Linked DNA regions of Homo sapiens. The protein of the gene in region 2 binds, or shares a complex with, the protein of the main gene of each other region. Each region holds a gene or a part of one and is shown on either strand. Other genes may lie near its edges. A codon is read from its position in the direction of its gene.

Evidence for each region.
Region 1: the proteins of CCNA2 (region 2) and GMNC are in contact, whole or in part, in a cryo-EM structure (PDB 9HIU), measured with the Homo sapiens proteins. Residues at the interface, in NP_001228.2 of Homo sapiens: Met210, Ile213, Leu214, Asp216, Trp217, Glu220, Val221, Glu224, Arg250, Leu253, Gln254, Tyr280, Ile281, Thr282, Asp283, Thr285; in NP_001140158.1 of Homo sapiens: Asn165 (codon at 3,113), Ala166 (codon at 3,110), Lys167 (codon at 3,107), Arg168 (codon at 3,104), Asn169 (codon at 3,101), Leu170 (codon at 3,098), Ser171 (codon at 3,095), Glu173 (codon at 3,089), Phe174 (codon at 3,086), Ala175 (codon at 3,083).

Annotation. Positions count from the first base shown.
Region 1 is NC_000003.12:190,852,695-190,860,181, forward strand, and holds the end of GMNC (geminin coiled-coil domain-containing protein 1), read right to left. Parts: intron 6,323-7,487; coding exon 6,234-6,322; intron 5,206-6,233; coding exon 5,089-5,205; intron 3,222-5,088; coding exon 2,601-3,221; 3' UTR 43-2,600; downstream 1-42. UniProt on the Homo sapiens protein: Regulator of DNA replication. Promotes initiation of chromosomal DNA replication by mediating TOPBP1- and CDK2-dependent recruitment of CDC45L onto replication origins.
Region 2 is NC_000004.12:121,820,016-121,828,144, forward strand, and holds the start of CCNA2 (cyclin-A2), read right to left. Parts: upstream 3,869-8,129; 5' UTR 3,614-3,868; coding exon 3,401-3,613; intron 2,632-3,400; coding exon 2,388-2,631; intron 1,077-2,387; coding exon 964-1,076; intron 751-963; coding exon 527-750; intron 1-526. Other genes in the region: BBSome complex member BBS7, read right to left, coding at 5,845-5,978. UniProt on the Homo sapiens protein: Cyclin which controls both the G1/S and the G2/M transition phases of the cell cycle. Functions through the formation of specific serine/threonine protein kinase holoenzyme complexes with the cyclin-dependent protein kinases CDK1 or CDK2.

The DNA of each region.
Region 1 (7,487 bases), on a different chromosome or scaffold from region 2:
GAGCAAATACACAGGATTATGGTTACAAACCAGGAGAAGAAAATCTGCTATTAGGGAATGTTAAGCATGGTATAAAAATAGTTACCGCAATCACAAAAGAGTTTTTATTTCCCACTATAGCTTAAAATATTAACTGTGGTTTACCAGAGAGACATGGTGAAGCCATACAAGTAAAACATATACTCAGGTGAAAGAAATGTTTAATTTCTAAAACATGAACAAAATAATTTTCTATACATAATTTAAATGGATATTAAATATTTATAGACATGATTTCAAAAACGTGGTAATTGTCTTCCATAACATCGTCCATGATAGAAGCCAGGAAACCATCACATTTTATCCCAAATGTTCGGTAATATCTTTAAACTGGGCCAAAATTAAGTTTCATTTAAAAGCTATCAAAAGCTATGACATTTTACATGGTTTTGTATACCAAATGCATTGTGCTAAGCCTGGGTGTACCCTCATGGTACTTAACACATGATAAGGCACACAAAGAATGCAAAATAAATATTTGTTAACTCATACATTTCCTTTTACAGCTTGATTATTAGACTTTCAAAATTAGTTATATTACTTTCTCAATTCCTAGTGTCATAAAGTACAATAATTCGAATCCTTAAATCTCTTATTCTAAAAAGCGACAAATTTCACCGACCAGGGGCCCAGATACCAGAATGTAAAAGGCACAGTTATTTATTTTATTTTATTTTTTAGAAAATGGAATGTGTTCTACTTCTTAAAGTACTCCAGAGAGTAATATTAATTACTATATTGGATTTTCTTCATAAATTATTTTTAAAAGTGGGTGGCAACAAAACTTTATAAAACAGACCCTTTGCTTACATCACCAAAATAAAGCAACAACCAAACAGAAACAACAATGAAAGGCATGTCTCTGTTACAAAGAATCCTAACCAACACAGTTGACCTACGAGATATTGATTGTGCAAGATGACTTATTGAGATGTGGAAAAGAGAAAAATGAGAACAGGTTTCAACATGAAAGATTTCATCATTAATTGAAGTTTGTCCAAAAAACATAGGTGCACATGCAGGATGTGCAAATTATTCTGGGAATGATAGGGGTCTTGAGAGATGGGAAAGAAGAAAACTAGCACAAGCACTGAAAATATATTGTTTCAAATTTAGAAATATGAAGTCCTTGATAGCAATATTTATATGCAATCTATCCGCACTTATTTAAAAATTAATATGTATCTATTTTTAGAGGCAAATTATTCTTACACAGTTACGCCGAGTTAACTGCAAAATGGGCTCTAGAAAAAGAGTACTGTGATCAGAGCAATGATTTCTAATGTTAACTTCAAATGACTTATGTTTTTGAATTTTATTAATTGTACATAAAGTTTACCCTACCTAATACTTGCAGTGCCTATCTAAAGACTTCTCTTTAGTTTCTTCAGTGACCTGAAACTGCCATGTTGGAGTAAATCTGATAGGACCCAGCCTCAATTCATAGAATATTAGTAATTATCTAGTCCAACTTCTGTATTCTACAGTTGGGAAACTGAACCTTCACAAAAGGGAAGTCGTTTTCGCAAAGTCATAGCAGATGAGTAGGTCTAAGTCTCATGATGGTGGCCACAGTGTCTAAATTGCTTGTATTTTATCACCATCACATAGCATAGTGCCTGGTACAAAGTAGGCATTAGGTATTCTACAGATTTCTTGGGTGGACTGATCAATGAAAAAATGAATACGCGAATGAATGAATGAATGAGACAATGGCTGAGCTAGGTTAGTCTATTTTCAGCAATAGGAGTTTGTCAGCATCTGGGTAGTTGCAGATGATGACTAGTTTTGTTACCACAGTCCCTCAAAATGTTCTTCTTGGAGTCATGTTGGTTAAAGAAATGATGCTGGGTACATATAGAAGCTGATACATCATGAGGCATTTAAAAATAATTTAAATTCTTTGTAATTTTAAAGTTTATCTGTGATATTGATTATTAGTGGAGTTACAGTTGTTTTAAGAGGCTTTGTCAATGCCACTATGGGGCACTGAACTTTTTGAACTGCCATGAACATAATGCTACACACATCCACATTATGTCTTCAGGAGTAGTGGTGATGGGCAAAGACACTTGTTTCAACCCCACCCTCAGCTATTTGAACATGCAGTAGCAAGTACTTGAAGCAAAAATAGGGCTCATTCTAAAGACAGTTTTCAGAAATGACAAAGGGAGAAAAGTAAAAGGGCTGTGAATATTTCAACTACTTAAAAGAGGAAAATCTGTTAAACTGGTTAAAATTGGAAAAATGTATCTAGGTCTTAAAGGAATATAGAAGTGAGTGGAAAATACCTTATCAAGTATAGGGCAAAGAGAGGATGTCAATAGCAGGTATTGGTGTGTAAACAAGTCAAATTTAGGTAAAAGAAGCGCGGACACGTTTCATTATGGATTCTTGGAAGCCATTCCCTGCAGATTTAAGTGGGTAATTGAGAGTGACATTTAAAGTGGCAGGAGACAGTCTAAGCAACAGCTTCTGTGTTCCACATAGTCAAATTCAAGTGCAAGAGAGGTCTTTGTAAACAGAGTTCGTGGCAGTGCTTTGTGATAAAAGAGGGGTCACTAAGACTGCTTAGGGACCCAGGTAAACTTCCAGCCTCCCTCCTCATCTCGACGCACAAAGGCTTGTCCCTGGTGGAAGGAATGAGTTTTCACATTACAATGAGGGCTCAGGGATGTGGAAAATGCCATCTCTGTCTTGTTGGGTGACACATGAGCAGTATAGTAAGGAAGAGTTTTCAGCCCCACTGGGGGATTTGAAAGTTGAGAAAGGATGTGGAAATCTTCTCCATGAGTGGCAGTGCTGTGCAAGGGGGTTGTTCTGTCACCTCTATAGTCAATTGGCATATCCTCTCTGGGGATATTTTTATAATCAACTGCATCATCCGGAAACTGGGAAAATGTGCTGGCGACTCTTCTGGGATGAGATGCGAGGGCACTGTAGTTAGCTGATGAGGTGTCATCGATAGTGTCAAGGTCTTTTAACCCAAGTGTTTGAAGGACCCAGGGATCCACAGGGGGCCCAGCTTGTTCTTCACAGTTAGCAAATTCACTAGAGAGGTTTCTTTTGGCATTTTTGGGATGGGGAATCTCAGCAGGAGAGTATCTTTGCTCTTTGGATTTTCTCTTCCCCTTCCTGAATTTTCCATATGCTTTGGAGAACTCATCAGATGAGAGCAATTTCTAGGGAAGTGATATTTGAAAGTTATACTTTTTTCATATATTTACTAGTTAACTAAATTATTTCGGAAAAAATGCTTAAATTTCTCTTCACACAAGTAAGATGGATTGGATTAGCTTGTTTGTAAAGTAAAATCTGTGATGACAAGTTACTGCCTAAAAACTCTAAATCACATTTTTTACTCAATTGTTTTAAATGTTGAAAGGACCAGATGATATTTTTAAGATTTCAGCACCGGCAAGTTATTATTATTATAACAATAATAGCACTATCATTTATTAAGTTACCATTTGTAAATAAACTATCATTTATTTATAAATAATACTTATATTTATTTATAAATATTTATAAATAATACTTATATTTATTTATAAATATTTATAAATAATACTTATATTTATTTATAAATATTTATAAATAAATAAAAATATTTATTAATATATATTTATAAATATTTAGAAATAGATATATTTATAAATATTTATATATTTATAAATATATTAATAAATATTAATTTATATAAGTAAATATTCATAAATTTATATGAATAAATATTTATAAATAAATATAAATATATTTATAAACAATATTATTTATACATAATATCTTTATCATTTATAAATGAACTATCATTTACTACAATTTATAAAGCACTGATTACATGTATTATCTCATTGGATATAGATGTTATTAAAATCTTCATTAATGAGGAAACTAAAGCACAGATATATTAATGACTTGCTGAGAATGATGTAGCTTGCACATAAACCTAAGCCACCCAAATCTACACAGATCCTCTGATTAAACACTATACAACACTGCTTCTTCTTATTTCATTAACTTTCAAAGCACTTCTGAGATATATTATTATATTATTCTAAATATTGGAAAATTATTAAGACTGACAGATAAAACTGCCTAGTTATTATCACTTAGTAATATAATAAGTGTCCTTTTATGGAATGGTGGCTGGAGTTAGGAGCCCAGGAAAATAGCCTGGCCTATTCTCTTAAAATATTCTCTTTTTAACAAAGGCAACTGAATTGTAAAGAAATCAAATCTAGTGTCTTCTATTCTCTGAACTGCTCTATTTAGTAAGAGTAGCAAGAAGCATCATCAATTTAGATCAAATAATTTCAAATAATGCAGCTTGTCTAGAAGTATGGAAAAGATTGATGATGAAAGCATTAATGATAACATAATGGCAACTAGATAATAAAAAATTGAAAGGCAAAGAATTGAGCATGAACAAAAGAAGACTACTGGCAAGTTATTTATCCTTGAGTTAGAAATAGCTCATTTTAAAAGTGGAGAAAAAATGTGAATTAAATGATAATGTAATTGTGTATGCCTAATTGCCTAATATAATTTGTAAATGCCAAATCAAGAGATTTGGGCTCAGGCAATATTCACAGCATTTTAGATCTAGCAGAATTTTTAAAAGATATTTTAGACCATCCATTACAGATGAAGTTAAGTGAGGATCTAAGTAAGAATGATTTGCCTAAAGTCAAACAGATCATTAAAAGAACTGAGTGTCTTTTAGATCTGCTTCCCGTACCAGCATTCCATCCATCTAATTCTGCCTTTTGATTAACACTGATTGTCTCAGCAACCCCCACCCTCGACTAGCATTTGATTTTTAAGCAACTTCTTTTGTAACATAAGACTGACATCTGCAATCTAGGTACTTCAGAGAAATGATAGATAAAAATTCTTGTGAAAGAGCCGTTATTTCCTTAAGAAAAACCATCCATCTTATAAATGCATATCAAGATACACTGTTTAATCAAGGAGTTTTACATAAATCATTTCCTTTCTCAAATCACTGCTTTGTTCTTATAAAGTAGATACATACATCATACATACCTTGGCCTTTTCTTCAAGACATTTAACCAAAGCAGAATTCAGGTATTGTCTGAGGTGATTATTCTCTTCGTGTAACCTGGCGAGTTCTTCTTCCTTCTGCACCAGGGTATCTTGCAGCTACAAAAAGCAGACAGTGGTGAAGGCTGCTCCACTATATTGACTTTGTAACCTTATAATAATGCCACTGCTCCTTAACTGCCTTAAACTTGATGATTGTTTGTTGTATGAACACAAGCACAGGGAGCCCTCATCCTGAGAGGCCTAAATTAAATCTACATCCCCCTAATGCCTAGTTGTTCAGCTTTGTGCTCTGAATGTTCATTCATTGCAAAGCATTTGGAGAGATTATAATAGACTTTTAAAATTGTAACCACAAGCGAATCAGGTAGATATGAAGGAAAATGAGCTGCATGCAACTGTTTAAATATAGAAAATGATGTTTAGGAAGATGTTGCTGGACTCCTTCCTTGCACTTCTAAATAAATAAATAAAAAATAGAGGTGGGTCGCCTTTTTTCAGCCTCAAATGGACCTGTCTGTATGTCCACTAGGTTAAATTAAATATAGAAAATGATGTTTAGGAAGATTTTGCTGGACTCCTCCCTTGCATGTTTAAATAAATAAATAAATAAAAATAGAGGTGGGTTGGCTTCTTTCAGCCTCAGATTGATCTGTCTGTATGTCCACTAGATTAAATTATCCTTCAGGGGCAAAACTGACACAACATGTAAAAAGCAATCTTAGGAAAATATTTTATAATCATTATGTCTTCTCCAAGTATTAGCTATGCTTATGGTTTAAAAATACTGTCACACTCATTATATCATTCGATCTTTTCAAACGCTCTCTGAGATAGGCAGTACAAGGTTTACAATTCCATAAATGAGGACAAGGAAAAGGATTCAAGGTCATACGGCTAAAATGTGTAAAGTGAGAGCTTGACTGCAGGCCTTTCTAGAGTGTCTTGCTTGTTTTTCTTTTCTCTGACATTGATCATCTAACTTTGATCTCTCTTTGGACACACCAGTCACTTTGGTTCTAAACTGAGTCAGCATGAATTTCAAAAGGGAAAAGAAGCAAGATATTAGCAGTGGGGAATGGACCACATAGAACATGACCAGTCTCAATGTTCTGACTTACACATACCTGCTTATTTCTGTAGAGCTGAGAGGAAAGCTGAGCCTCTTCCCATGAGCACAAGTCCGGAAGAGGAAAATTTGAGTCACTGAATGATTCTGTGAAAATACAAATAGATAACTGAGAAAATAATCTTGTAGTTTCTGTGTAATAAAGAAACTTATCAAATCAAATCAGAAAGTTTAATAGGTTCAATTATTTTTCTTAAACAGCTATTGCTGCCATACAGGAAAACAAGACATTTAAAGTTTTTTAGAAAAGGCAAGCAAGCTGTGAGAGACAAATATTTATATGCTGTATGACATAGCAGTTAAAAAGGTAAATTTTTTTAAGCAGTAAGGGGTCACATTCTTGCCTAATATATGTATTCCTGCTGGATAAATTAAAGACTGTCCAGTCTTTGTCATTAATTTATGCAAATACTTATTGATCTCCCCCAAACTCGGCATAACATTGTAATTCCATTATGTTTTTCTAGTTTTTATCTTATTTTCTAAGTTTTAGCACTTGATAATGTACTGTTTGGCTCTATAATTAAATTCTAGTCTGTAATGCTACTAGTTTCTCTGCCTGTCTGCCTGCCTGTTTTAATCTAACGGACTGTATTTATTTGGAATTTTATGTGGTAGCACTTTCTACTTTAAAACAATTTGGACCTTGCTTCTTTGAAGATCTTAATGAAAATCTCAAAACTGTGCCCAGACCTTATCTGTTTCAACTGTCCTAATCTGTATATTTTATAAATGTTTTTTCAAAGTGCCTTTTCCCCCCATATTTGACAGTCAGCTCTATCTATCAATAAAAAACTATGGTTGGGCATACTAACCAGGTCTACTTTTACTTTCTTTTCTTCATCTAGTACAGTTTAGACTCTTGTCCTTCTCTGGTTATATTGTTGATACTGAAATATTTTTGATTAAAGTGAAATGATGAGTAAGGAGATAGGAATAAAATGGCATAAGTAGTTTGGGTTCACATTCTTGGGCATTTTGTTTTTACTGTTGCTTGTAGTGGAAAGCTAATATTCAACAATGTCCTCCCTGACATTTAAGTGTGCTTTTAATATTTGGGGTTCCTTTGTTTGTGTCTTTTTAAAAAATAAAACAAATCATGTAGCAGAACCAACAGTATGGATATTTAATTCTGGGGTGTCTGAGAATTCTTTAAGAAACTTGAGTGTTTAACACAGACATTTCTTTAATATTTATAAATACTGCTGGTATGCCACAGATCAAGATTAATATGTCATTTTACATCAATGCT
Region 2 (8,129 bases):
CTGCAACTTCCACCTCCTGGGTTCAAGCGATTCTCTTGCCTCAGCCTCCCTAGTAGCTGAGATTACAGGCATGCATCACCATGCCCAGCTAATTTTTGTATTTTTAGTAGAGACAGGGTTTCGCCATGATGGCCAGGCTGGTCTCAAACTCCTGACCTCAAGTGATCCGCCCACCTCGGCCTCCCAAAGTGCTGGGATTACAGGCGCGAGCCACCGCACCCAGCCTTTACTTCTTAATAAAAGAGACACTGCTTATATGCCAGAAAGTAATATTGGAAGGAAAATGTTTTAAAATTTGTAACCTAGTGTACTATATCATGTTCAAGGAATCCAGTTGGGGGAAAATTAGTGTTCTAGATTAGAACAGTTTCATCCTCCTCCACTGCCCTAAGCCCCAGCACATTGCCATCCCTAAAGTAGTCACTGACTCTGCCTGGTGTATGTTAAAAGGTCACCATTAAAAAAATCAATTTCTTCCCTAGACAAAAGGTCGTGATCACTTTTAAACAAACCAAGGTAGACTTACGAGGCTAACAGCATAGCAGCAGTGCCCACAAGCTGAAGTTTTCCTCTCAGCACTGACATGGAAGACAGGAACCTATCAATGTAGTTCACAGCCAAATGCAGGGTCTCATTCTGTAGTTTATATTCTTCTCCTACTTCAACTAACCAGTCCACGAGGATAGCTCTCATACTGTTAGTGATGTCTGGCTGTTTCTTCATGTAACCCACTTTAGGTTTACATTTAACCTATTGAGAAAATTATTTATAGTGTTAAAATTATTCTAGTGTAAAAACTGCAATTAGATTATTTTACCATTAATTACGAGAGGCTACATGCTATAAACTTAACTGTAGCATTAGAATAATTCATTAGTTTAAAAATTTAAACATTATCCTCTCAATTTCATTTAGCCACATTTAACAAATACATTATACAAACTGGATTCAGAGAACCTTTACCTCCATTTCCCTAAGGTATGTGTGAATATCCTCATGGTAGTCTGGTACTTCATTAACACTCACTGGCTTTTCATCTTCTAATATAATTGACATGTCCATAGTATGTGGTGACTCTGGGACAATTCAAAAGATATGATTAAATTAATTGTTTGCCTATTTAGTTTAATAGCTAAAAATGACTGCCATGGAAGGAATCTCATATTAACAAAGCACTTATTTCTTCAAACTAAAAAGAGCTTCTCATGACAAAATATGTAGAATATTTTACCCTAGTCTCAGTATCTCTGTACATAGAACTTTGGAATGATTTTAGTTAATGAGGGAAAAAAAAAAAAACATATTGGTAGGCCCCTAACAGGAAAATGAGAATCAGGTATTATCTTAAAGTATCCATCTTCCACAACAGAAAGGAGCAAATGGCATGGTGGTTCTGTTAGGACAGAACACTTTTAAAATCCAAGTTTTGAGATAATATCTAAGATTTGTCCCAAGAGAAACTGCAGATCCCAGAGTCTGACATATATAAAGCACAAGTAGGCAATAGCTAGCATCAGTTAAATGGCCTCTATTAACAAGTGTTATTAAGAAATTAGGTTTGTTATGGGCAAATGGATTAACACTATAAATAATTTATTTTTTGTAGTATAAATTATTTTGAAGCAAAGAGTATCATCCATTATTCCTTTCACTTCAAAGATCACCTTGAGATTAAACATTTTCTGCAAAATTTTGATAAAAACACACAAATTATTATTTCCAAAGGACTTTTCCTGCTCACCCCTCCTTCCTCACAATCAATACAACTAAAACTAAAATGAGATTGGATTTAGTGAGCTGTCCAGTGACTCAATATCCCTAGGGCAAAGAAATAGTACAAACTGCAAAGAGCTGTTTACAGAAGCTACTTTAATACATGGGTAAGAGTAAACAGCCATGGTACAACTATTTACTTGTAGGAGGAAAAGTGTCACTTTCTGGTATCAGATGCTAATCCAGACTGGTTTTATAGAAACAAAATTATAAAACTGGAAGAGACGTTATGTAATCACAATATTTAAGACTGCATCTTCAAATAGCACTAAGTGATATATAAGTGAGTTAAATAAAACTGAAATCTATTCTCCCAACCAAGAACACATTTATGGGATCAGATTAAAATAAGCATTTAAGATCTAATTATAATTAGATTGATGTGACTGGCAGTGAACCTGAAAGAGCACTGGATAAGGATCTTTTTGTATGTCACCAAGTCAAGTGTTAGCTGTGAGATCTGAGATAAGTCACATCCTTTCTAAGCCTTGTTACATTAAACCTAACTCACTATAGTCAAAATGACTACATAAGACATCTTAAAATGCAAATCATTAATATCATCTAATAATTATAATTACCGTAATTCCACACAGATTTTCCTTAAAACTTACCAAAACTACCATCCATTGGATAATCAAGAGGGACCAATGGTTTTCTGGGTCCAGGTAAACTAATGGCTGAATTAAAAGCCAGGGCATCTTCACGCTCTATTTTTTGAGATTCAGCTGGCTTCTTCTGAGCTTCTTTTTCTGCTTCATCCACATGAATGGTGAACGCAGGCTGTTTACTGTTTGCTTTCCAAGGAGGAACGGTGACATGCTCATCATTTACAGGAAGATCCTTAAGGGGTGCAACCTAAAAAAAAATTAATAACTGGCTTTGAGCCTACTAGTCTTGCATTCTTTCTCTTATGGGTGTTGGCCTTTGCTTTTTCTCCCAAATACTCTATCAGGAATTAAACTTTCTGGGACAAAGAAGAGTTTCAGTATTCAAAAGAGAAGGGATGTTCCCATTTGTCACAGGCATTCCCACAAAGGCTATCAATAGATAACACTAGGTGGAATTATGCAAAACTTATCAGGGCCACAAGAAGGGTCGGGTGACAGGCCAATACGTGACAAGTTTAGGAAAGACAGCAAAAAAATTGTTGGTTCACCACTGTCGCCCGAGGGTGGAGCAACAGAGCAAATCCGGCTAAAATGGCGGAATTTGCCAAAAGCAAAGTATTTTGTACACGCTTTTCTAAAGTAGAGGTCATCTCTTAAGCGTGAGGAGGATAGGGGTCAGAGTCCTACAGCAGTGCCTGGGGTTTAAAAGTGGAGAGAAAGGCGCGGAGCTGAGCGAAGACTACACGTTTTAGAGCTTGGTTTGACCCCATTATGTACAGGCAGATGCCCCCTATAGAGAGCAGACCGGCAGCATACACACAGTGTTGGCGGGGTCCTGATGCTAATATGGGAGAACTCCTACTGTGGCAAACCACACACCAGCACCAACTGCACTCCAGACCCTGGCCCCCTTCCAAAAGCCCAGGACATGCCTTCTCGCCACTCTTCTCTGCCTGCTAAGCCAATGCCAAACCCTGCTCGACCCACCCTCCTGCAGATATCCCGCATCCCTTTACCCGTCTCGTCTTCGGCCTCTGCTGCTGCGCTAGACCCCGCGGGTTCCCGGACTTCAGTACCGCCAGCGCGGCCCGGGTCCGCGGTTGTTGGACGGGCGCTGCCTTTTCCGGGTTGATATTCTCCTGGTCCTCTTGGAGCGCCGTCTGCTGCAATGCTAGCAGCGCCGAGCCCGCCTCGCGGGTCGCAGGCCCCGGCGCAGAGTTGCCCAACATCACTGCTCCCGGGAGTGGACGGCGGGATCAGCCTGCGGCGCCAAGCAGCGTGCACTCTGCCCAGCCGACCACTCGCACCGACCCGGCCAAAGAATAGTCGTAGCCGCCGGTCGCAGCCCAGGCCAGCCTACCAGCCCGCCCGCTCGCTCACCCAGCTCGAGACCACGCAGGGCCGAGGAGGTTGCGAAAGGCGCAGGCAGGCACTGCCCAGCGTGGCGAGCCAAAGACGCCCAGAGATGCAGCGAGCAGCCCGCCGGAGCGGCGGCTGTTCTTGCAGTTCAAGTATCCCGCGACTATTGAAATGGACCAATGAAAGCGCTCGCGGCCTTGACGTCATTCAAGGCGACAGGGTCGCAGGCGAGTGAAGGGTAAACCAAAGGAAACTGAGCAGGGGCGGGGCAGGAGGGAGAAACAAACTGGCTGGGGCGGGAGAAAACGCCTGCGCGGGGCGGGGAGAGGTAGGATTTAGGGCCCGACGCTTCCGATTATTTTAAGCTGAGCCACCTAGTGAGCGAGGCTGTCCGAAGGCTGACTCTAAGCCTTTTAGGGAATTAAACGGAATTAAACTTTGGCGACTATCATTTGGGTTGCCCAGCCTTTAGCTCTGGGACGTCTAGTTAGCTTAAGTGACTTTTTCCAAAGGTCTAAAATCTGGGGCACGTTTTTCAGTATCTCCGATTCTCCGTTTTCTTATGTGTTAATAGGGACTAATAACTACAGTCATATGGTTGTTAGGATTAAATAATGTGCATAAATTATTTAACACGGAGCTCACATAGTAATACAGTACTCAAGTGTCAAGACTGTAATGTCATCTTAACATTTAGGCGTTTATTCATAGTAACCAGAAATTGTGTTTTATGCTTTTTATTTTTCCTAATGAAGATGCAATTAATTTAAGATGGCACCTTGAACTACTGTTGATATATATAATAAATAGCAGTGCATTACAAAATATTCAAATACAGTCATTAATTTTTTTCTATTTTTCCCCAAGCTGTGGCAACCAACAAAAAACACAATGACGTTCTAGTGACCTAGATATAATTATGTTCCTTTCAGAAGTAAAGTTTTTTAAACATAGTAAAAACAATATGACCTTATTAAAATAAAACTCTCTTAACTATACGTGCCTTTAACAAATTTTTATATTTATATATAAATATAAGAATATACAAAGCTTGCACATAACTAATAAGTATAATAGCATATCATTAAGAAGCACTGTTTTCTAAAAAATTCGTGAGTCTGCCCTTCTTGAAACATAAAGCTTATTTTCCATTATCTGTATGCCATTTTAAAACCTTTCAATATTCCCTTGAAATTAATAAATATGAATTAAGATTAATGCACAAAACTTCTGTAGCCTTAATGTCATATATGATAAAAAGAGATCTAGAAGATACTAGTGTAGGAAAATCTAAGATGGCATCACTATTTCTGCACTCTTCACTTGAAGCACGCTGAATAGCTCCACTGGTTACAGCATGTCTAATTAAGATCCCCCGACTCTGTGTAAGCTCTTCTTATTTCCTGGCTACAATTTATAGCACTGAGCCAAGTCCAGCATTTCCACAAACTGCAGCAGAGTCATAAAACACTACCAAGCAAAAGGAATATCAGTTGCAAATCAATCCTATCTCCTAGAAAAAACAATTGGTAGGTTATTTCCACTAGCTGGCAACATACATAGTAACCAGGACACAAAGCAAGTACCAGTACTTGGGTTCTGGTCCCAGCTTTACAAAATATTAGCATGTCCTCTTAATCACAAAATTTCACTGAGAATCAGTTTTCTTATATGATTTGACAAATTTTACAACAGTTGTGAAGATCAAATAAGGTAATATATAAAAATACATTTTGAAGCCTATAAAGCGGTCTACATGTTTATGTGTTTATGTACCTTGTAATACATTTGAATATATTTTAATTTTCCACATATTACTTCTCAATTTAAAAATTAAAACAGCCACTTGCCAAAAATTCATTAAAATCCTATTTAAATCATTCTACTTGTGTTTTAAAAATAAAAAGACTCTTTTAGTTTTAGAAAGTTCAATTTGTCAAAAGAAATAGAAGCATTACTTTAAAAAGCCATTATATCTCAAATATTTTTAGATATAAAAAAGCATTTGAAATTAAAGTACATACACAGTTAACTTCTAATTCTCTTTTAACATTTTTCATTTAAACAGACCACTTCTTTGGGACTTTACCTTATTTGTATGTCATGCTGCATCGAAGAATGAAATCAATGCATTTTGGTCATAACTGTCCAGAATTTCCAATAGAAGGGGTACTTTAGTTTTTACATTGGTGCCTTTAAACTTAAATTTATCTATGAAAAGATCAGTGATCATGCCTTTAAAGAAAAAACATAAATTTCCTGTCAGTGATTAGTTATATTTAATGACACAGTATTTCACTAAAGTAATTGCTTGATAATCTATTTTTAAGCACCTGTAATTCCATGATTTAACATACACAAACCTAAAAGCCATGTTTTTAAAAATAGTCATTTTGGGGGGATTTTAAAACAAGTTTCAAGATATAAATCATCTGCCTAATAACCCTCTTAACAATTGATTACAAGCTATTAATTCAGACAATCAACTACTGGCCATTTTTGAACTGCTATCAGTATATATAACATCACAACAAGTGGTATATTTTTTCCACCAAGCTGACCATTTTGACATAGTCTAGGCAGATTCTATTTTTAACAGCTTATCTGAATTAAAATATTCCACCTATATGTTGACCATTCTTGGGATTTGACTTGAAGGCAAATAGTCCTAGGTTCAAAGATCTGGGCAAATCATTTCACCTTGAGTTTTCTCATATGTAAAACAGGAATAATTCAAGCTGTCAATCCTTTATCCAAAAAGCTTGATGCAAGATGTATTTCAGAATTTTTCCTATTTTAGGAAGATAATGAAAGGAATATACTATGGTATTAACCCCAAGGGGACTGAGTAGCAGCATCCAATAGCAAAACATAGTACTATTTCTGGCACAAAATATACGGATGAATATTTGCACTAAGTGGAATAAAAAAGATATAACCTTGGGCTGGGCACGGTGGCTCATGCCTGTAATCCCAGCACTTTGGGAGGCTGAGGTGGGCAGATCACGAAGTCAGGGGTTGGAGACCAGCCTGGCCAATATGGTGAAACCCTGTCTCTACTAAAAGTACAAAAAAATTAGCTGGGCATGGTGGCGCACACCTGTAATCGCAGCTACTCAGGAGGCTGAGGCAGGAGAATTGCTTGAACCCAGGGGGCAGAGGCTGCAGTAAGCCGAGATCGCGCCACTGACTCCAGCCTGGGAGACCAAGCGAGACTCTGTCTCAAAAAACAAACAAACAAACAAACAAAAAATATATATAAAACCTCATGTCAGTTTAAGTCAGATTTTGTTATTAAATTAATTCAGATTAAGTCAAGATTTTGCTGTCAAATTATTTATGAAAAAAACTTTGGTTTACAAAGCTGTCTGGATTTTGCAATCAGTGATATTATGTACAGCCAATCTCATAAGTTATTATAAGGATAAAAGAGATCATGTGCTTGTCATGTAATAAAGGTTAAGACATTAAATATAGCTACAGTTTGTGAGAAAGTCTCTGGATATGTAATAAAAAATTCAGTAGGCAGGCTTAAGGATCCATGTGTACTAGTGATACCAATTGGCTCTACAGTGACTATGGAAGGCTTGGCATAGTGTAAAAGGCATGCATTTTGGGGTGAGAAGATTCTAATGCAGGCATGATCACTAACTTGCTAGGTGACAACAAATTCCTTAGACTCAGATTTCAGTTAAAGCATATGAAAAATGAAGATAATACCACCTACCTTGCAGAGCTATTGTAAGGATTAAATATCTCACCTGATTATGAAGACAGTGTAAATAGTGTGCTATATACAACAGGTCTTATGTAAAGATTGCTAACAAAATTGTTTTTCTTAAGCTGTTTCTTCCTTCCTCACTCCTTCTTTCCCTCTCCTCACCTCCCTTACTCTGTTTCAATACAATTTGTGAAACATTCAGCTTCTCACCACCAAAGTTTTGAACTATAAATTGACACAACACAAATACTGTATATCCTTTATTAAATTTTGCCTTAAAAATTTTAAATGCTGCATTTTTATAATTCACAATAGCAACAAAACATGACAATTATTTGTGTGAAATACAGTCTAAGCTCTAAAGGTTCATAGATTACATTCATTTTATACCAGGTTTGTTCATATATATAGATTAATTCATCACAGTATACTTATTTCTTAATATACTTGCATTTTATCAAGTAAAAGAATTAAATATTAAAAGTAGCTTGACAAAATACAGAAATATTCTGTGCAATAAATTTGTTGTCAACTGATTCATGACTGGTTCATGAATCATGACTGATGTAATCTTTTTATCTTTCTGCCCAGCTTCTCTTACATGATCCTTGGGAAATAGCCAGTTGAAAAGAAATATGGCAAGGTATTCTAGAATGGTCCACTAA